Linked DNA regions of Homo sapiens. The protein of the gene in region 1 interacts with the protein of each later gene in a pairwise test. Each region holds a gene or a part of one and is shown in the gene's direction. Other genes may lie near its edges.

Evidence for each region.
Region 2: the proteins of TNNI3K (region 1) and MYBPC3 interact in a two-hybrid assay, tested with the Homo sapiens proteins (one study listed by BioGRID).

What each region holds. Positions count from the first base shown.
Region 1 is NC_000001.11:74,226,247-74,242,886, forward strand, and holds the start of TNNI3K (serine/threonine-protein kinase TNNI3K), read left to right. Parts: upstream 1-9,140; 5' UTR 9,141-9,205; coding exon 9,206-9,245; intron 9,246-9,855; coding exon 9,856-9,964; intron 9,965-16,640. Other genes in the region: FPGT-TNNI3K fusion protein, read left to right, coding at 9,856-9,964. UniProt on the Homo sapiens protein: May play a role in cardiac physiology.
Region 2 is NC_000011.10:47,342,703-47,349,702, reverse strand, and holds part of MYBPC3 (myosin-binding protein C, cardiac-type), read left to right. Parts: intron 1-1,161; coding exon 1,162-1,279; intron 1,280-1,797; coding exon 1,798-1,846; intron 1,847-2,022; coding exon 2,023-2,052; intron 2,053-2,223; coding exon 2,224-2,277; intron 2,278-2,673; coding exon 2,674-2,676; intron 2,677-3,058; coding exon 3,059-3,076; intron 3,077-3,332; coding exon 3,333-3,496; intron 3,497-6,078; coding exon 6,079-6,211; intron 6,212-6,440; coding exon 6,441-6,443; intron 6,444-6,557; coding exon 6,558-6,682; intron 6,683-6,767; coding exon 6,768-6,873; intron 6,874-6,958; coding exon 6,959-7,000. UniProt on the Homo sapiens protein: Thick filament-associated protein located in the crossbridge region of vertebrate striated muscle a bands. In vitro it binds MHC, F-actin and native thin filaments, and modifies the activity of actin-activated myosin ATPase.

The sequences.
Region 1 (16,640 bases):
AAGTAAAGAGAGAGATAGGCCCTAATACAATAATAGCTGGAGACTTCAACACCCGACTTTTCAGCACTAGATAGATAGTCTAGACAGGAAATCAACAAAGAAACATTGGACTTTGTCTGCACTATGCACCAAATAGACGAAATAGGTATTTACAGAACATTTCGTCAAATGGCTTTGGAATACACATTTTTTCCCTCAGCACTTGGGTCATTCTCAAGGACAGATCATATGTTAGGTTACAAAACATGTCTTGAAACATTCACAAAAATTGAAATAATATCAGGGATCTTCTCTGGCCACAATGGAATAAAACTAGAAATCAACATGAGAAATTCTGGAAACTGTACAAACACAAGGAAATTAAACAATATGCTCCTGAATATTCAGTGGGTCAATGTAGAAATTAAGAAGGAAATTGAAATATTTCTTGAAACAAATGTTAGTGGAAACAAAATATACCAAAATCTTTGGGATACAGCGAAAGCAGAACAAGAAGGAAGTTTATAGCGATAAGTGCCTACATCAGAAAAGTAGAAAAACTTCAAATACACAGCCTAATGATACACCTTAAAGAACTAGAGAAGCAAAACCAAGCCAAACCCAAAATTAATAGAAAAGAAATAATAAAGACTAGAGCAAGAAAAATGAATTTGAAATAAAATGTCAATGAAACAAAAAGGGTTTTTCTTGAAAAGATAAACAAAATGTACAAACCTTTAGCCAGGCTAAGAAAAAAAGAGAAATGATCTAAATAAAAAATGAAAAAGGAAACAATACAACTGTTGTCACAGAAATTCAGAGGATCATTATTGGCTACTATGAGCAACTATATGCCAATAAATTGGAAAATATAGAAGAAGTGAATCAATTTCAAGACACATACAACCTACCAAAATTTAACCATGAGGAAATCCAAAACCTAAACAGACGAATAACAAGTAAAGAGACCAAAGCAATAATAAAAAGCACCTCCCAGCAAAGAAAAGCCTGGACTCAATGGTTTCATTGCTTAATTCTACCAAACATTTTAAAAAAGAAATAATACCAATCCTACTCTAACTGTTTGGAATAATGGAAAAGGAAGGAATACTTCCAAACTTATTCCATGAGGCTAGTAGTACCCTGATACTAAAACCAAAGACCTGTCAAAAAATGAAAACTATATGCCAGTATCACTGATGAATATTGATGCAAAAACCTTCAATAAAATACGAGCAATCCAAATTCAACAACACATTGAAAAGGTCACCATCATGACCAAGTGGGATTTATCTTAGGGATGCAAGAATGGTTCAACATATGCAAATCAATTAATGTACTACATTGTATCAACCAAATTAAGTACGAAAATCACATGGACATTTCAATTGGTGCTGAAAAACCATTTGCTAAAATTCAACATCTTTTCATGATAAAAATCATAAAACTGGATATGGAAGAAACATACTTAAACACAATAAAATCCATCTATGACAAATCCATAGCTAGTATCATTGTAAATGATAGGCTTTCCTCTAAGATGTGGAACACAAGGATGCCCATTTTTCACCACTGTTATTCAACATAGCACTGGAACTCCTAGCTAGAGCAATCAGAGAAGAGGGAAAAAAGGACTTCGAAATTGAAAAGAAGCAAGTCAAATTATCCTTATTTACACATGATATGATCTTATATTTGGAAAAACCTAAAGACTCCACAAGAAAACGACTTGAATTGATAAATTTAGTAAAGTTGCAGGATACAAAATGAACATACACAAAAATCAGTAGCATTTCTCTATGCCAACAGCAAACAATCTGAAAAAGAAATCAAGAAATTAATCCCTCTTATAGTAGCTACAAATAAAATTAAATATCTAGGAATTAATGAAAAAATTGAAAGACCTCTACAATAAAAACTAAAAAACATTGATGAAGGAAATTGAAGACACACAAAAATGAAAAAATTGTCCATGTTTGTGAATTGAAAAAATTAATATTGTTAAAATGTTCATACTACCCAAAGCAATCTACAGACTCAATGCAATCCCTATCAAAATACCAATGACATTATTCAGTGAAATAGAAAAAAAAATTTAAAATTTATATGGAACCACAAAAGACCCAGAGTAGCCAAAGCTATCCTACGCAAAAAGAACAAAACTGGAGGAATCACACTACTTGACTTTAAATTATTCTACAGAGCTACAGCATCCAAAATGGCATGATACTGGCATAAAAACAGACACATAGATGAACGGAACAGAATAGACAACCCAGAGGTAAATTCATACATCTACAATGAACTCATTTTTGACAAGGATGCCAAGCACATACATTGGGAAAAGGACAGTGTCTTCAATAAATGGTGCTGGGAAAACTCGGTATCTATATGCAGAAGAAAGAAACTAGACCTCTATCTCTTGCCATATAGAAAAATTACATCCAAATGGATTAAAGACTTAACTACAAGACCTCAAAGTATGACACTACTAAAATAAAACATTGGGGAAACTCTCCAGGACATTGAACTGGGCAAAGATTTCTCAAGTAGTATCCCATGAGCACAGGCAACCAAAGCAGAAATGGACAGATGGGATCACATCAAGTTAAAGAGTTGCTGCATAGAAAAGAAACAATCAACAATGTGAAGACAACACACGAAATGGGTGAAAATATTTGCAAACTACCCGTCTGATAGGGATTCATTAATATCCAGAATTTTATAAAGAGCTCAGACAAGTTTACAGGAAAAACATCAATAATCTTATTTAAAAATGTGCAAAATATTTGAAAAGATATTTCTCAGAAGAAGACATACAAATGACAAACAGGCATATGAAAAGGTGCTCAACATCATTTATAATCAGGAAAATGCAAATCAATACTACAATGAGATATCTTCTCACCTCAGTTAAAATGGCTTATATCAAAAAGGCAATAACAAATGCTGGCAAGAATGTGCAGAAAAGGGAATTCTTGTACACTGTTAGTATGAATGAAAATGAATACAACCACTATGGAGAACAGCTTGTAGTTTCCTCAAAAAAATAAAGATTGAGCTATCATATAATCCAGCAATCCCACTGCTGAATTACATATACAAAAGAAAAGAAATAAGTGTATCAAAGAGATAACTTCACTCCTATGTTTGTGGCATCATTGTTCACGATAGCTAAGATTTGAAAGCAACCTAAGTGTCCATCAATAGATGAATGGATAAAGAAAATGTGGTACATAAATGCAATGGAGTACTACTCAGCCATAAAAAAGAATGAGATACTGTAATTTGCAACAACATAGATGGTATTGGAAATCATTATGTGAAGTGAAATAAGCCACACACAGAAAGACAAATTTTGCATGTTCTCATTTATTTATGGGAGCTAAAAATAAAAGCAGTTGAACTCAAGGAGATAGAGAATACAAGAGTGGCTACCAGAAGCTGGGAAGGGTAGCAGGTGGTGGGGTTGGGGATGGTTAAGGGGTACAAAAAATAGTTCAAAAGAACGAATAAGACCTAGTGTTTGTTAGCACAACAGGGTGACTACAGTCAAAAATAATTTAATTATACATTTGAAAATAACTAAAAGTTTCTAATTTGATTGTTTGCAACAAAACAGATAAATGCTTGATGGGATGGATACCCTATTTGCCCTGATGTGCTTATTACGCACTGTATGTCTCTATCAATATATCTCATGTGGCCCTTAAATATATATATATCTGCTATATACCCACACAAATTAAAATTGAAAAATTAAAAAAAAGAAAATAAAAATTGAGAAAAGAAAAAAAAACTCTCAAATAAGTAGAACTATTATTTTGTTTTCCCTCCCCCCAATTTTTTATGTTTGTTTATTATACGATTTAGAAACCTCTAATTAGAGAAACCTCTAATTTTTAAAACAAACAAACATAAAGTTGATTACATTAGATTCTAAATAACATTTTTAAAAATGTTATTTGTCCAAAACAATAATTAGTTATTAATTGAACTATAATTATCACACAATATCATTTTTAAGCTGGTTAATTAACTCTTAGGATGGGTGAAGAAAGAATTAAGAAGGAACGGAAGTGGCCTGAGTCATGAAGTTTAGATTATTCTGATTATTTTAATTCCTCAAAGAAACTTTTTCTGATTGAAATTTAGCCTTTAATAGATGGACTTTCTCATGCCAATCATGTATATCTCATCATAGGACAAATACTGCATTGCGGTTACCTGTTTACTCATGCATCTCTGGCCCCATGAGCTCTGTGGATTTCTTGGTACAATACGTATTTGTTGAATGGATAAATGGACTGATCAGTTCGTAAATTGAGCTAGACTGACAATTCAAAGAAGTCATATAAATTTGGAAAAGAAATTTTAGCCAGTTACAGAAATGTGACTCTTACCTCTATTTAATCTAGATTATTTAATCAACTTTATTTCATGTTTACCCACCAACAAAGGAAATCACAGGAAAAACTATGATCTTTGCATTTGCTGTTATACTTTATTGGACACAGAAATAGCAATATTGTTTATTCCTTTTTAAAATATACTCTGACAGTTAAAGATACTGAGAACACATACTTAAATTACTGTGACATTATATTATCATATTATAAATATATATTCATTATAATGTATTCTCAAGTCTTACTCATTTTTGAGGATTAATCTGAATATTACCTCAACATGTTCAGACTGATGATGGTGATTTATACATCATCCAACATACTAAAAACTTAGATATTCTAGTGAAAAAGAAAGAAAATTGTTTGATAAATAAGACTCTTACAAATTATGCTTGTTTAAATGCAGAAACACATTATTTAAAAGAAAATTAATCAAATAATTGTGTGCACTTGAATAGTTGTATGCATCTTAGGCAATGGTCAATTTATTTTTAAAATAATTTTATTTCAACACAAATTATTTAATCTTTATTAAAAATAAAGGAAAAAAACCTAAATATAAACTAACTAGTAATTCCACCTTCTTATGTTTAAAGCAATGATTAATTTGTCAACCAGATGCAACGCATTGAAACTCTATGCTTCCCCAAAACATGGAAATATATTAATAAGGACTAATATACAATGAAGAAATTATCAAAGTATAAATTAATTCAACTTCTAAATGTGATAATAATTGTTCCAAGTGCATTAGTTTGATTTCATGGGATACATTTTCTTTTATCATTTCTCTGTTGGAACCATAAAGGTAGAAGTGTCAAGGTCAATTTTTACGTTTTTCATTTTGAAAGCATCCTTTTAAATCTTTATAAAGAAATCAGTATAAAATAAATATAAATAGCAGATGCGTAAGTGTAGATTGGGATAAATAAATCGTATAAACCCCAAATAAAATAATGCAGAAAGAACATAAGTGGGTTTATTGAAGGAGTATTAGAATATAACTATTTGTATGCAGAAGTGGTCTGAGAAATCAGTTGAAAAGACAGAGGCATTAAAACTAGATTTAGGCAATTCAGTAGAATATCAAACTTAGTTGAAACAAAGTAGTTGAAGAAATAATATTTCATAAATGTGTTCTGACATTTTCTAATGAAGAAACGAGCAAGCATAAAAGAAAGAAACCTTACTATTAATCATGTATTTGAGTTGGCTTTTCTTTATAAATTATTAAATTTCCTTGAGTACTTCAAATGCTCTTTTTAAGGAATTATTATTTTTTGCATCATTTGTTTTATATTTTTCCATAATTTTTTAAATTAATATTTTGTTAGAATTGTTTTCAGTTTACAAAAAACATGGATCAGAAAGTACAGAGTTACTATATACTCCCCCTACACACACACAATTTTTCTTATTAACATCTTATATAGTATATTTGTTAACATGAATGAACCAATATTGATAAATGATTTTTAACTAAAGTCCATAGTTTACGTTAGTGTTGTGTAGTTCTATGATTTTTGCCAAATGGATAATGTCATGTATCCACCATTAGAGTATCATACAGAATATTTCTCTACTCTAAAGATTTCCTGTGCTTCACCTACTCATCTCTTCCTCTCCTCTACCCCTGTAACCACTGATCTTTTTATGGTTTGTATAGTTTTGCCTTTTCCAAAATGTCATATAGTTGAAATCACACAGGATGTAGCCTTATCAGACTGGCTTATTTCACTTAGTGATATACATTTAAAGTTCTTCCATGAATTTTCATGGCTCCTTTCTTTTCATTGCTGAATAATCTTCCATATTCTGGATATACCACAGTTTGTCTCTCCATTCACTTATGAAGGAATATCTTGGTTGGTTCAATTTTTGTGAATCACTTTTAAAATACGAGACTATACTTGCATAGCCAAATCATGTATTGCCCCAGGAATTACCACAGGATAGAACTCTTTGATAATCTGAAGTAATCTTTCTTTTGTTTTTATTCTACTTATCTCTTTTCTCTTGCATGAAATTCAAAGGTAAAAAAATTTCTGTTAAGTAGCATCTCACTTTAAGCAACCTTAAAATAGTGCTTCTTAAATGATGCTCCAAGTAGCATCTACATTAGAATCATCAGAGTTGCTTGTTAAAGTTCAGATTCCTGGGCTCTACTCTTGATGTACTGAATCAGAATTTCTGGGGATGGAGCCCAGGTTTCTATTTTTTTAAACAAAGCTCCTCATGTTGCCTACCCTCACTAAACTTTGAAAGCAGACTACTTTTGTAATCAAGTTGTGTTTTTGATAATGTATGATATAACATGCTTTCTCCACTTTTGGACGTCTCAGGACTGGGGAAAGTAGGATTCAACTTAGAGTATGTGGCCAACTCTTTATTAGAAAGAAGTACTTTTTACAGAAATGTACTGAGTATTAGGGAAAATATTTTTTGATTCTATGTTGTTTCTTTCCAACATTCTTTGGAAAAGGAATGCAAGGATATTATCCTGGACCATTTACATTTCCAGCATTTCTTCATCAGGCTGAAGGTACCCAGAAAAAATTACTCTAGTACCTCAAACCATTACCTAGATCCACATTCTTAAGAAGGGCTTAGAGATAAATATTGTTTCTTTCAAACCAGGAAACTGTTATAGTTCAATAGTGGTTAATATTTTGGGTAATATTTTGAGTAATTTTCTGCATTTCTTATATTGCTATCGTTTCATTTTATTTCCAGCAAAATGTATTGCATTAGAATGTGGGAGAATTCAACTGAGTTGCTGATTGGATTTTCAAACTCATCGCAGAAATCACACCTTTGAAAGCCAAAGCTTTCATTTGTAAAACCTAGGCTTTTTAAGAGAATAAAAGTATTCTTGAAAATCAAAAGGAAAAATTCTAAAAAGCAGTACATCAGACTTGTGTCCCAAGCAGGAAATTAGAAACACAGTGGAAGATGATGTAAGAGCTAATTTTTCCTCCATATGTGGAAAACATACATGTACACACACACACACGGATGGAAGATCCGAGATATTAGAAATAAGAAAAGAGATCAAGAAAAATATATTTAGTTGTCCTCTAGAAGGCTCCCATCTTTGTCCTTCTGGATTCAGAGTATAGAAACCATGATTATTTTAAGAAACTCTGAGAGGAGAAAGAGCTGGTGCATTATTTCCTAAAGTGTAGCCCTGGGAGATTGCAAGTCTTTTAAAGAAAGCTATCCAGTATGGTCTTCAAGATAAGGAAGAAGAGATTAAGCAGGAAGGTCCCTGGACAAAACAAAGACTTTCCAAACTGAGAAAATGGGGGTCACAGAAGTGCTTAGAGAAAGCTGGTGGAACTGAAGATGTCTGGTTTTCAAACAAGGAGAATGTAGAGTGTATGGACCAAGGTAACCAGATGCCACTGCAGTATAGCAAGTATCAACAGCTGTGGTAGGCATGTACTGATAAGAAGGGAAAAGGAGAATATGTCCAGATGAGGACAAAAAGTGTCTATGAAGCCAGACACCTGATGCGCCAACTATATCTCATCAGTCTGGAAGCCTTACCTCTGAAACTTCTATTACTTTTGCTGAGCAAAAATATATGGTGAGTCCTAACTTTGTCTAATCATTTATTCAAAAAGAGAGTTGTTTGAACATTTAACTATAGAAAATATGAAATCTGTATCTGTTAAGTTAAAGCTATATCCTCTGGATGTGAATCTGAAGATTAAAATTTATACTTTCTAGGTATAAGAAGATTATCTGAAATAAATATATAGTGAAAAATTTAATGTTTTCTTTCTGGGTTTCCCATTTATTCTCCATCATAGACTGGGTTCTTTATATCAGTAGAAATAGGCATACAATATGCATACAAAGAGAAATGTCCTAATAAAGTAAATGGAAGGTGCATGAAAGAGAAATTCTGGAAGACAAATCAATAATATCTAGCTTGGATATTAGAGTCACATGGTCAGAACTGATTCCAGACTTCCAACTTACTAGTAACTTTGTGTTTTCTCATCCATAATTTGTGAATAATATCTACCTAGCAGCACTGTATGTATGAGATTAAATAATGAGATATATGTAAAGCATGTAAACTAGGGTCTGACACATAGCAAATGCTCAATTTTCTTATTCTTAATCTTACTGTTCTTGTCATTTATTATTTTACGAATTGCTATTTGTAGAACTTAATGTTTTACATTCTGATCTATGATTCTTATGGTCGGAATAATCCACAATAGTATAAATCTTGGTCTATGTTGAGAATTTCTTCATACAAACATAATTATGTAGCTCTTATACAGGCCAAACCTGCATTCATTTCTATTAGTTATATGCTAGAGGTAATGAATTTTTATTATTTATTTATGTATGTAGACACATTCTATTACCACTCTTTACCAACTGCCATTATTTTGGCTTAGGAGAAAATGATCTTGAAAACAGGTCTATGTAGTTTTAACAGCTCTTTTGTGAACTTCGGATGTAACTGAATCATTTTCTAGATTTATCTGTTAAATAAATGGTCCATGAAAGTATGTATGGGTAGATAATTGATGGAAGCAAATAATCCTATTGAAACATTTGCTATTTATTTTTGATACAGTTCTTTTAAACAGACTGATTAGTTCCCTTTATGATTTCACCCTCGAAAGCACACACGATTTTGTTCTTTATCATTGTTGCATGACATTCCATTTGGCAGTTGGGCTTATTTTTAGCCAGACTATCAAAGTATTTTTCAACTGGACTGTCACTGCACTTGAACTTGGAATCTTATAACTTGAAGAACTGCCCTGGAGAAAGGAAGAAACTTATAATAAATGGGAAATTATAAATCTAGACCAACCCAAACTTGTACTGGTAATTATTCTAATTATTCTTATTTCCTTAAGTGTAATATGGTTCAATTATAGTTACTGATAACTAACAACTCATTGGAATATGTGTTAATTTGTATACGGAAGATAAGGCAGCATGTTTTGTGAAAGTCTTTGAAAAACTATCTGAACTCAAATTATTTTTTTCTGAAGATCTTTATAGGAAACAAGAAATTTCTTACAAAAATATTATTTTAGTTCCTTGGTATAATGTTACAGAAAAAAATTTGGAATATTGCTGAATGTAGGGATTTTAGAATTATATCTTAAGTATCTAGTATTTAAAAACTAAAAACCGTCTTGCAACTAGAGATTGCTATAATTAAAATGCAATAAAATCAAATGAAATAAGTCAAATATATTTTTCTATGTAAATATATTATCCAATATCGAATGGGTTCTTCATTACTACAATTCAATATGATTGCATTTTAAATATAAACATCTGCATTTTAAACACACAATCAGTAATTTAAATTAAGTATTGTAGAATCTAGAATAAAAAACAGTTTTGATTACTTGTATGTTATGATCTGTGTCTACATTTTGCAAAACACAACTATGAATCAATCTCATTTGTTCTTCTTTACTAGATGAATGGAAGAAAAAAGTCAGTGAATCATATGTTATCACAATAGAAAGATTAGAAGATGACCTGCAGATCAAGGAAAAAGAACTGACAGAACTAAGGAATATATTTGGGTAAAGTTGTAAGAGTCATTATTTCTTTGTATAAGTGTCTTCAGTATTCACCTTATTTTTTAAAGTATCTGTATATTTTTTAAACCCGTAGAACCTCAGACATAAGCAGTCATGTTCTAAGCCTTAGGATGTCAGATTATCTCTCTTTGACCACTCATATAGCTCTCAAAATGCAAACATAACATCTCACCTCCTTAAAATATAAATTGTAATCTGCCATCATTAAAGTTTAAAAATAAAAACCTAAAGGCTAGCCTTTGAATGCAAGCTATTGTTGATCTCAGTAATCTTCTCAGGAATTAGATCATTCTTGTAAACCATGCCGGCAATGAAAAGCAAGATTTTTCTTCCCACATAGTGGTCGCATATTGGCCACATTGTTCTCTTTGAACTATGACGGTAAGTCCAATTTTAACAAACCCTCTGGTCTCTTGACATTGAAAGGCTGTCCCTTAATGGAACTGAGTATCATTCTGCCCCTGAACAATCATATAACAACATATAATATTGCCTTCAGGATTTCAGTAGATTTTGTTCCATGATAACAAGAGAAAAATAATCTAAGTGTCACAACCTTGGAAGACACAAAATGTTCAGAAAAGAGGAGCAAGACCCTTATATACACAAAAAGCCTTCTGGTTAAATTGAATCTGACATTGAGAAACTAGATGCCCATTAGAGGGTCAAGAAAGTTACCTGCCTGACTAAGGAAAAGTTCCATATAGGCCAATTAGCCATGTTCATTTATAGCTGTGTTATGTAATGCACTCATGGCAAAGAACTCCCTCTATTTTACTTAGAAAACAAGTGTAAAGCAATGACCAAATGACACATCTTTAAAATAAAATTTTAGATATAGTAAACATATAAATATCACATAATTGGCAAATAAAATCACCCATGTATAATATAGTTTATATGAAATTCGTCAATGGATGTAACAAGGCTTTCACAAGTGTTCAACTTATGGTTCAAAAAGTAGTTGGTTCTCTTTATAGTTTGGCCCAGGATGATGAACTCAACACTGACACTTGTGATGAGATACCACTGATCTGACTTTTGCAAGTAGTATCACATGTTGAGATATGGAACTACATTTGAAATTCCTGTAGAAATATGACTGGCATGTTAGTACAGTAGAATTATAAATATGTATTTGTTTTGTTGGAAAAGTATGAATATAGAAATTAATCATAAACATCTAGCTCTTATTGACTTAAATAAATATGCTAAATGAAATATGATTACATTGAAGAGATTTTCCTCAACTTTTAAAGGTCAAAGCCTCAGTTATTTAGTATTATTTTTTAATTTAGAAAGTATTGAGCACATAGGTGAAGGCTAGCTTAAACTAGATGTATCCAAACCTGAATATTAGGATTAACAATGGATTTAAAATGTAGGTTCTTTCTGATACCACATCGACAACTACAAGCTGTTTTGACAACTGCTATAATGGACTTTTCCTGTGTTTCTACTAAATGCAACAAATGTGACCTTCTTTTTTCTGATTAGCATTGGGGGTGAGATGCAGGAATCTGTGTCAGGGAGCTTACAGTCCAGAATTTGTTGAGTGCCAGCTCGTATTCAAGTGTTGTTCTGGATACATCAAATACAAGACATTATTTAATCTATAGTCATATGTAGATTGTTGTCATTTCATGTGTGCCGAATAATATTAACTCCGGTGGATGATAAACTAAGGATTAGAGACAAGGCAGTGGGAGTTGTCAAGTCACATGGTCAGTAAATTCTGGAATGTGATTTGTGTCAAGGTCTGCCTGACTCCATAGATAGCGCTCTTCCTACCATACCCTGCTTACAAAAACAAGATTTAGGTCCTGATTTATTCATTGATTTTTGGAATCATTGTAGATAAAAAGCATAGTTAAGTAAAGGTGTGTAGGCAAGAATGAATGAGTACCATAGAAAGTTTAGGAAAAGTGAGAAAAAATAATGTCTTCACCATATTATCTGACTTGAGTAAGAAAGCTATGTGAATCAATGTAAGAATTTTGGAGTCATACAAACATGGTTTTAAATACAGCTTCTTCTATTTATAAGCTGTATATCCATGGATATGTTTTTTAATCTCCTTAATCCTCATTTTCATCTATAAAATGAGGTGAATAATAATCACCTCACAGGATATTTTCAAAATGAGGTAAATTAAATACTAAGTACAGGGCCCAACCCATAGTAAGCATTGAGTAGTTGGAAATTTCTATTATCATGATTGATTGGATAAATAAGGACAGTTTGAAGGATAGAAGACTTATCATAAAGTGAGAGTAACAAATAGCTTATTAAAAGTTAGAAAGAGTGAAAGTTTTTATGAAGAGGATGATTTCAAAATTAAAAATGTAAAGTATTAGCACAATTTAGGAAGATGCCGAAATCTGAAATATAGCTTTTAATGATTTTGATTGAAAGGGATTTGAAGAATTTTGAGACTAGAGTATTAGAAGGCTAATCAAAATGGCTATCAAATTTACTGAGGATAATGGTGAGACATTTTTGGAGAGAAAGACCAATAGCCTGATGCTGATGACATTAAAGAAGCTACAGAATGTGATGATAAGGAAGCTGAGGAGAGGATTATCCAGTCTAGAATGATGTTTCTGCAAGAACTAGGGGCCTCTTATGTTAATGGAGATGGAGACTGTAGTACTTGCTAAAATTTTCGATTCCATGACTCCACCCTTTATCATGTGAATCAGAATCTCTGGAGATGTCTTCCAATAACCTGAATGTTTAACAAGCTCCCCAGATAAAACTATGCATAATAAAAATGATACTTCTAAAGTTTGAAAACTATACTTCTAGAAAGATATCCAAATTGCACTGAGAACTCTTTGCCTGAGGTGATATTAGTGAAGGGATGAGGAATATGGGAACAGAAAGTAAGCAACTGGTGTGGTCTAAAGAGAGTCAAGAGAATCAAAAACAAGCAAGCAAAAACAGAATAATCTGCTTTTGTCTGATTTCGTCAAGGTAGAGAGCATAATCTGGGAGAAAAAAGTGAATTGCTTCCAGGGCAGAGTTCTAAGGATTTTCTTTTCTTTGGAATAAAATGATGGATGAAAGAAAGAAAAGAATAGTGTGCTGAGAATGTAAATTGTCTTACTCACTCATTCACAAAATTTTAAAGGTAGTTGGGAAGATCAAACCTAACACTGTATGAAATGACATTTAAATGAGTATCTAGAGCATTATAGGTGCTAAATAAATGTTAGAATCTCATTACTCACCCTTATTCATTTGTCTTATAAAGAGCATTCCTGTGATAAACAATTATGTTATGTTGCCTGACATCAGCCTTTCTCTAAACATTTAGATAGCAAGGAGACTGTATACAATGCCCAAAAAGGAACATTTAAACTAGCATGAAACGTAAAGGATCACTGATGTAAACAGTTTTTCATTTGCTAACCAATTTCTTTATGGCATTCCCGGTAGATGCTAATTTCATTCATTATAAGAGATTTTTCACCACATAATACACCATTGCTCTATCAGCTCGAATACACAATCTTCCTGGCATAGCTTTTACCCACAACATAATAAACAGCAATATAGTGCTAAATGTAAGACAGAAAGAGCTAAATAGTTATCCTGCTTATGCCAATTTATAGCAGCTTTGGAATGGGAGCTTGATGTGGGAGAGAGGGGAAATGGAAATGGAATGTTCTTTCATCTTCTGCTATAAAGTTGCATTCACTCATAACTTTGGACATTTGTTTAGGTAATGGATTGGTGACAGGAAGAAATGAAGAAAAAGAGAAGGCAGGAGGAGAAAGAAAGACAGAAAGGGCACCTTAGAGTACCATTGTCTGATTATATCCTCCTCTGTGCTGCCTCTAATCTTTATCAACATAACAGCACTTACTACATGGTGTTGTTTTTATCCATTTATAGGTCTATCTCCCCACTAGTATATGTGTTCATTAAAGGCAGCTTTTTTTCTTATTTAGCCTTATTTATATTTGTACTTATTTGTAAAACAAACTAATAACTTAGGGCTTACCATATGCCAGAAATGCTTCTACGTATCTTTTTGTGCATCAGCTTATATAATCCTAATGGTGTATATGTAAAGTGCTTTAGCACAGTGTCTGGCACATGGCAAACCCTCAAAAATGTTAGTTAACACTTAATCATTATTGTTTATGTTAACAACCCTCTGAAGTAAGTGTTGCAATTGCCATGTTATACCTGGAGAAAATGAGGCTAATCAAATTAAACTGGCTTGAACTAGATTAAACAATTTGTATGATTTACCTAGGATTGCATCCATCTTTATTTGATTTCAAAATGTATCATATTCATAATCTTGGTTATGAATATTATACAACCTTTTTGAAAAAACTATGGAAGTGATGGCTCTCCACATGTGACTTCAAATGTTTTCAATTAAATTATTTTGTTTCAATAGTTTTTATCATAATAAATTTTAAGACTATGTTTTGCTAATTTCATTGTCAAGCCAAATTTGTATCTGCTTAATCTATAATATGAAATTTAAAACCATGAGAATACTCCAGAAAAGTTATAATTTTTCTTTTTCTTTTTCTTTTTTTTTTTATTATACTTTAAGTTTTAGGGTACATGTGCACAACATGCAGGTTAGTTACATATGTATACATGTGCCATGTTGGTGTGCTGCACCCATTAACTCGTCATTTAACATTAGGTATATCTCCTAATGCTATCCCTCCCCCTCCCCACACCCCACAACAGGCCCCCGTGTGTGATGTTCCCCTTCCTGTGTCCATGTACTCAATTCCCACCTGTGAGTGAGGACATGCGGTGTTTGGTTTTTTGTCCTTGCAATAGTTTGCTGAGAATGATGGTTTCCAGCTTCAACCATGTCCCTACAAAGGACATGAAGTCATCATTTTTTATGGCTGCATAGTATTCCATGGTGTATATGTGCCACATTTTCTTAATCCAGTCTATCATTGTTGGACATTTGGGTTGGTGCTTAGTTCCAAGTCTTTGCTATTGTGAATAGTGCTGCAATAAACATACATGTGCATGTGACTTTATAGCAGCATGTTTTATAATCCTTTGGGTATATACCCAGTAATGGGATGGCTGAGTCAAATGGTATTTCTAGTTCTAGATCCCTGAGGAATCATCACACTGACTTCCACAATGGTTGAACTAGTTTACAGTCCCACCAATGGTGTAAAAGTGTTCCTATTTCTTCACATCCTCTCCAGCACCTGTTGTTTCCTGACTTTTTAATGACTGCCATTCTAACTGGTGTGAGATGGTATCTCATTGTGGTTTTGATTTGCATTTCTCTGATGGCCAGTGATGATGAGCATTTTTTCATGTGTCTTTTGGCTGCATAAATGTCTTCTTTTGAGAAGTATCTGTTCATATCCTTTGCCCACTTGTTGATGGGGTTGTTTTTTTCTTGTAAATTTGTTTGAGTTCATTGTAGATTCTAGATATTAGCCCTTTGTCAGATGAGTAGATTGCAAAAATTTTCTCCCATTCTGTAGGTTGCCTGTTCACTCTGATGGTAGTTTGTTTTGCTGTGCAGAAGCTCTTTAGTTTAATTAGATCCCATTTGTCAATTTTGGCTTTTGTTGCCATTGCTTTTGGTGTTTTAGACATGAAGTTCTTTTCCTTTTTTTTTTTTTTTTCAGACGGAGTCTCGCTCTGTCGCCCAGGCTGGAGTGCAGTGGCGCGATCTAGGCTCACTGCAAGCTCCGCCTCCTGGATTCACGCCATTCTCCTGCCTCAGCCTCCCAAGTAGCTGGGACTACAGGCACCCACCACCACACCTGGCTAATTTTTTGTATTTTTAGTAGAGACGGGGTTTCACTGTGTTAGCCAGGATGGTCTCGATCTCCTGACCTCGTGATCTGCCCACCTTGGCCTCCCAAAGTGCTGGGATTACAAGCATGAGCCACCGCGCCTGACCCAGAAAAGTTGTAATTTTTAAACACTATGACATCAACATAATCCAAAACAACTTTTTTGGCATTGAGTAGATACATCTTGGTCAGTAATTACAGTGCCTCACTTTAAAATTGACTAGGTTTAATTATGTACAAAAAAGTGGTCAAAAGAATGCTCTGTTCCATTAAATAGTCACAATGTATAGAGGAAATAAAAAAATGTTTTCTGAGATACACCTTTTTGTACCTTTTCTCTCTGAAAAGTTCATCTGAGGCCTGTTGCATTCCACTATACTCATCCTTAAAACAAAATATCTTCTAAAATTATTGCACTATAGCCAACTATGAAATTTGGCTATTATAAGATGAATAGCACTGGAAACTTTTCAAGCTGATCTTATTTAAGAGGAGTAGACCCTTTCTGTCAAACTACTAAGTAGGATATTGAAGGGGAAATGTCATCTTATAATTAACATAGAATGAAAATATTATTTGGCATGTTTGGTAGTGTGTTTTGCCAATTAGCCACAAAACAAAAAATAAGAATCGTCAACAACAAAAAAAACCCTCAAATCCAAAAGGAAACAAAGAATTCATAATGCCCTAAGTCAGTCTATTTCTCTAATTCTTTTCTTGTTTGTCCAGGTAAAACTAGTTAAGAACCATAATTTTACAGGAATATCTTGTGAAATCATTGAGAAGCAACTTGACCTCAATCTCTCTCTGCCTCTCTCTCTCTATCTCTCCCTATTGTTCTCCCT
Region 2 (7,000 bases), on another chromosome or scaffold:
GAGGGCACCATGAGACCCAGAGGCACACACGAGCTGCAAGCAAGGGGTGTGGGGAATCTGGGAGGCAGGTGGAGGGGCCAGGGGCCCACAGGGAGATCCCGGAGGCCTGGGGGCCAGGGAGTGCGATGAGGCTCATGGGAGCACTGTCGGGGACCTGGGAGACTTGGTGGACATGATCACCTCAAGGGGGCACCTAATAAGGTTTGGCCGGGGGTGGGGGGTCGCCCAGGGTGGTCAGGAAGCCTGGAGGACACTGTGAAGCATGGGGGCACCAGCTAGTGGGGTTGTAAAGCCCCTGGATGGGTGAGTATCAGGGCTAAGGGCTCAAGGGACTCTCAGGGATTAACCAGAACAATTCCTCATTATACAGACACGGAAACCAAAGCTTGAGAGGTTAAGTGGCTGCTCCAAGGTCACTTAGACATAGGCCTAGAACCTTAAGCCTTCGTTTTTTGTGTTTTGTTTTTTTCCGCCCTGCCCACCAGAACCTTAAGGCTTAAGTCCCCTTGTTTGTTCACTCCAAGCCTCTGCTTTTCCCAACCTTCCCCAGTCCTGGGCTAGGCAAGGGGGCCTCTAGCAAGAGAGGCCAACATGTTCTGCTGTGCGGGGCTGTGCATTGCACAAAAGCCTGTATTTCACCACAACCATGTGCCAGCAGATGGCAATCATGGGTTTCGAGATAGTCCCCTTTCTCTGTACAAAAACTCTGTATGGGTTAACTAAAGCCTGAGGGTGCGAAGATCGATGAGCATTTGTCACTCCCAGCCTCCTTTAAATATATATATATATATATAATTTGAGACAGGGTCTCGCTCTGTCGCTCAGGCTGGAGTGCAGTGGCTCAATCTCGGCTCACTGCAACCTCCACCTCCTGGGTTCAAGCGATTCTCCCACCTCAGCCTCCCGAGTAGCTGAAACTAGAGGTGTGCACCACCATACTTGGCTAATTTTCGTTATTTTTAGTAGAGACGGAATTTCACCACGTTGGCCAGGCTGGTCTGGAGCTCCTGGTCTTATGTGATCCGCCCGCCTCAGCCTCCCAAAGTGGGGATTACAGGCCTGAGCCACCGCGCCCGGCCACTCCCAGTCTCCTTTAAGGGTGCGGAGCCTTGTCTCCCGGCCCCTGGTGTCCCCTGACGCCCCGTCCCTCCATGCACACAGGTCTATCTGTTCGAGCTGCACATCACCGATGCCCAGCCTGCCTTCACTGGCAGCTACCGCTGTGAGGTGTCCACCAAGGACAAATTTGACTGCTCCAACTTCAATCTCACTGTCCACGGTGAGGGGGCCCTGGTGTCTGTCCTGGGCTCGGGCTCCCCATGGGTCCTGGTCTCCTACCTCCTTTTCCCAACACTAAGGAGGATGCCTCGTCCCATCCAGACATGAGTGCTGGCCACGTGCCCAGTGCTGCACACACAGGGTGTGAGAGAAACCCCAAGGCTTGCAGGGTAGGCGTGGGGGCTTAGGGCTGAGTCCGGGTCTCATCTGGGTGGGACTCTGTTTTATCATCTTGGTGTCACGGCTCCTGGCCCATGGCCTGGCACTGTCTGAATGTTTGGGCGATGGGTGAAGGTGAGTTGAGAGATGGGTGGGAATTGGGGACAATAAACCGTCCCACCTGCCTGGTACCTTGACCCTGGGAAAGGCTGGGAAGGTGAGATCCTGGGGCAGATGCCCAGCCTCATGGGGTCATGAATGGGCAAGTCTGTGAATACTCAGAGGCCGCCCCCAGGGCAGGGCTTCTCAAACGGCCCCCTCTGAAGCCCCTTCCCCCATCTCTCCACCCTTTGAACCCAGAGGCCATGGGCACCGGAGACCTGGACCTCCTATCAGCCTTCCGCCGCACGTGAGTGGCCATCCTCAGGGCCTGGGGGAGGCCAGTGCTGGAGTCTGAGGCCCTTCAGGGTCTCGACTGGGGGTCAGGGCTGGGGATGATTTGCGGGGCGGAGCTGAAGTCAGTGGGGGCTGCAGGGGAGAGCAAGCTTCCCAGGCAGGTGAGGATACTGAGTCTAACCCCCACAGGAGCCTGGCTGGAGGTGGTCGGCGGATCAGGTACCCCTGCCCCAGGCCCTACCTGCACCATCCGCAGACCCCCAGGGGTCTGAGACGGGTGGGAGCCCAATCTGGCTAGTGTCCCTTTCTCCCTCCCCACTCCACTCCCATCCTGCTCCTAATCCCTTTCCAGTCCCTCACTGCAGCCTCACTGGGGGTCCCTCTCCATAGTGATAGCCATGAGGACACTGGGATTCTGGACTTCAGCTCACTGCTGAAAAAGAGGTGAGTCCTGGGTGGCAGTTCCTGGGGCAGCTGGTGAGGCCTGGCTCCAAATCCCAGCACTGTGGTTTGCCAGCTGTGTGACCCTGAGCACAACACTGCACCTCTCTGAGTTGGTTTCCTTGTCTGTCGAGGGGATGATCCCAGTGTGGAAGGAGTTAAAGGGCTCTGCAGACATTATGTCCCGTCAACAGTCATCCTCACAGTGTCCCCCACGGCCACTCCACACTTGAGGCTGCAAAAGCTCCCTCCGTAAACTCCGGGGACCCAGAAGGAACAGAGAGAGGGTCCCCAGAGCTGCAGGGTCTACCAGGTCGGCCCAACTGACTTATGTTCTCTCTGCCCTCTCTCTCCCTCTCCCCCGGCCCCTCCATTATGGCTGCTGCTGCTGTGGCCCAGAGAGTAAGAATCGGGGTCTGGGTGTTTGGGGGCGGCAGGGCGCTGGTGGGTGCAGAGGGGATTCCCGTCCCCTCTCTGAGAGGCTGTGGTGAGAGACTCAGAGCAGGGTGCGGCTCCCCACGGACAGGGGTGAGTCTCTGTGCCTTGGGCTTCTCCTGCCACCCACCTATCTGTCAGAGCTTAGGAGGGATAAGAAAAAGTAATGCACACAGGAGGTCCTGCCAGAGCCTCCGGAGCAGCATGGGTGCCCCACAACACAGGGAGTGCAAGTGCGGAAAATAGGGAGGAAGTAAAGGCCCATGGGTGGGGTCCAGGTCTTTGAGGGAAGGTGGCCATACCTCTCATGTGCCACCTACCCTTTCTCCCACCCCCACCCCTGGAGCAGCAGTTTCCGGACCCCGAGGTGAGTGCCCAACATAGCACAGCACCCTCATCACCCCTAATTCTGCCAGGAGCCCCTCCAGATCCCCAGCCCCTCTTCAGCTCCCTTGGCCCCCAGTCCTGCCTGGCCTGGGACCCAGAGCAGCTCCAGCTGCCCCACCAGAAGGGAAGGGGCAGAGGGACAGGGGTGGCTACAGCTCCTTGGTCCTGGGCCCAGGAAGCCCCGCCCAGGGGGCTGCAGTCTTGCCCCCGGCCACAGCCTAGACTGCGGGACACAGGGACTCGAAGCTGGAGGCACCAGCAGAGGAGGACGTGTGGGAGATCCTACGGCAGGCACCCCCATCTGAGTACGAGCGCATCGCCTTCCAGTACGGCGTCACTGACCTGCGCGGCATGCTAAAGAGGCTCAAGGGCATGAGGCGCGATGAGAAGAAGAGCACAGGTTAGCCCTTCCTCAGAGGGGAGAGGAGAGGGCACAGGCTAGCCCTTCCCTACACAGGAGAGGAGAGGGCATAGGTTAGCCCTTCCCCACAGGGGAGAGGAGAGGGCACAGGTTAGCCCCCCACCTCGTCCACATACATGGAAAGAGCGGAGTCCGGCTTAGCACAGAGACTCACAGGAAAGAAGAGCCCAGGTTAACCCCTCCTTGTGTAGAAAAAGCCAAGAATGCCCAGGTTAGCCCCTTACCACAGAGATAGAAGAGAAGAGCAAAAGTTAGGCCAGGACAGCCACAAGGAAAAGGACAGAGCTCAGGTTAACCCTCCTCACCAAGGAAAAATCAGGCTACACTTTCTTTCTCTACCCTCTTCTGAAAAGAAATGAAGCCCGGTTAACCCTCTCCACACCCAAAAGAAAAGGGAAGAGGCCCGCTAAGCCTGGAGAGCCACACACAGGCAAAGAAAAGAGCCTGGCTAATCTTTCTCTCAGGCAAACAAAGCAGGAGGGCTTGGGTTAACTACCCTCACCCCCAGGCAGATGGAAAGAGGAGAGCCCAGGAATAGCCCTTCTCCACTGAGGGGTTGACAAGGGCGGGTGTGAGCCGGGAAAGCAGGGGTCTCACATGCCTTCTCCCCACCATGTCTGGGTCTAGCACAGGGCCTGGCACACACCTCGAGCGCTCTATAAACACCGACTGAATGGAGGGGTCAGCTTCCATGCAGGATATGGGAGACAAGCCCCTCCCAAAGCACACACACAAAACACACACGATCATGGGGACGGGGAGAGGAGCTGGTTAGTCCCTCCCTGCTGACCTCCCCCAGGCCCCTTATCCCTCTGCCCTGCCTCCCTGTTGTCTCAGCCTCACTGGGTTTCCCATCACCCCATCGCTAGGTGGCCTGGCCCTTACCGGCACCGTGGCCCCATTTAAGCCAGGGATCCCCTGAATGCCACCAATGTTCCTCTGGGTTAACTCCTGAACTGCTGAGCCCAGAGGGCACCAAGCAAAGGACTGTAGGTGCCCAAGGAGGAAAAGATGGAGGCTGGCAAGGCAGATGGGGACCTCCGAGGGTAGGGGTGTCTTCCAGGAATAGCAACAACAGTAAAAAGAGCAAATTGCTGGCCAGGTGCAGTGGCTCACGCCTGTAATCCCAGCACTTTGGGAGGCCGAGGCAGGTGGATCACCTGAGGTTAGGCGTTCAAGACCAGCCTGACCAACATGGTGAAACCCCGTCTCTACTAAAAATACAAAATTACCTGGGCATGGTGGCAGGCGCCTGTAATCCCAGCTACTCCGGAGGCTGAGGCAGGAGAATCACTTGAACCCGGGAGGCAGAGGTTGCAGTGAGTCAGGATTGTGCCATTGCACTCCAACCTGGGTGACAGAATGAGACTCCATCTCAAAAAAAGTGAGTGAGTTCCTTCCTAAGCCAGCCACTAGGTGCTTTATGTAATTATCTCATTTAATTCTCGAAACAACACTATGATGGAAGGACTATTACCATTTCCATGTTACTGAGGAAACCGAGGCACAGAGGGTTTAAGGAACTAGCGCAAGGTCACAGAGCACCCAGCAGTAGATCTCTGCCCCTCCGCAGCTGACTCCAGGCCCAGCCAGAGTATTTGAGGACTCAGGGGTCCTTCTCTGCTCGGTGGATGGAGCCCCCACTTCCTCCCTGGGCTCAGCAGCAGCAACATGGGCTTTTACAAACACGGCCGCAAGAGGAGGCATTGTTGTGGAGCAGGGCTGGGCTCAAGACCCAGCTCTGCCACACACCTGCTGGGCTGGTGGCATTGGGCCAGTCGCCTCTCTGAGCCCTATTTCCCCCACTGCAGCAGCATGGGGACCACCGCACTGGCCCTGGGGGCTGAGATGGGAGTGAGAGTGCTGGGCACAGAGGGCTGCTAGGTGGGAGCGCCTGGGAAGAGTACACAACTCAGGGGTTGCTGAGAGAAGAGAAGGCACAGCTGTCCCAGCCCCAGTTCTCCTGACAAGCTTCTGTCTTTCTGGAAGCCCCTAACCCAATCCCTGAGCTGAGCAGGTGGAGAGGACCCCAAGGAAGACAGAAGGACAAGGTCAGACAGACAGAGACAAGGAGGTGGGTTGACACATAGACACAGATAAAGAAATGAAGACACCATGCCTGTAATCCCAGCACTTTGGGAGGCTGAGGCGGGCGCATCACCTGAGGTCAGGATTTCAAGACCAGCCCGGCCAACATGGTAAAACCCCGTCTCTACTAAAAATACAAAAATTAGCTGGGCGTGGTGGCACATGCCTGTAATCCCAGCTACTCGGGAGGCCGAGGCAGGAGAATCACTTGAACCTGGGAGGCAGAGGTTGCAGTGAGCCAAGATGGCGCCATTGCACTCCAGCCTGGCCAACAGAGCAAGACTCTGTCCAAAAAACAAACAAACAGACAAACAAACAAAACAAAAAGAAATAGAGACACAGAGAAGTGGAAGCGGGGCGGCACAGAGGGGATTGGAGGGGGGGACCTGGGCCCCAGCCACAGCCACAGTAGCTTGGCCTGGGGGAGCAGGGTGCGGGCGGTGGGGTGGCCGGGGCTGAGGGGTGGTGCTCAGCCTTTCAGAAGAAGCTGGAGCCGGCCTACCAGGTGAGCAAAGGCCACAAGATCCGGCTGACCGTGGAACTGGCTGACCATGACGCTGAGGTCAAATGGCTCAAGAATGGCCAGGAGATCCAGATGAGCGGCAGGTGCAGCCTGGGGTGGGGAGGGGGGCTCGGGTGGAGGTGGGGACCCCCATAGCCTTGCCTCCTGCCCCTCTCCACATGCGTATCTCTGACTCGGTGTGGCTCTCAGCCCCATCTCTCTGGGCCTAATTTCCCATCCTTTTGCTCCTGCCGGTCCCTCTCTCTCTCTCCTTTTGTCTCGGGCTCACTTCCTCCCGTCGGGAACACTTCAACGGCCCCTTCTGTTCTACAGCAAGTAAGTTCCCCTCTGGATGGCTTGGGGTGGGGGGCACAGGGATTATCATGGGGCGCACTGGGCCCGGAGGGGTGTCCGCAGCTTTCCTGCCACTTCCCTGCGGCCCCCACCCAGGTACATCTTTGAGTCCATCGGTGCCAAGCGTACCCTGACCATCAGCCAGTGCTCATTGGCGGACGACGCAGCCTACCAGTGCGTGGTGGGTGGCGAGAAGTGTAGCACGGAGCTCTTTGTGAAAGGTGGGCCTGGGACCTGAGGATGTGGGAACCTGGGGAGGAGATGGCCTCAGGGGAGCCAACCCTCATGCTCACCCTGCCTGGACAGAGCCCCCTGTGCTCATCACGCGCCCCTTGGAGGACCAGCTGGTGATGGTGGGGCAGCGGGTGGAGTTTGAGTGTGAAGTATCGGAGGAGGGGGCGCAAGTCAAATGGTGAGTTCCAGAAGCACGGGGCATGGGTGTTGGGGGCATCTGCCCAGAAGAGGCCACAGCACTTGCCACCCACCCACCCGGCTAGGCTGAAGGACGGGGTGGAGCTGACCCGGGAGGAGACCTTCAA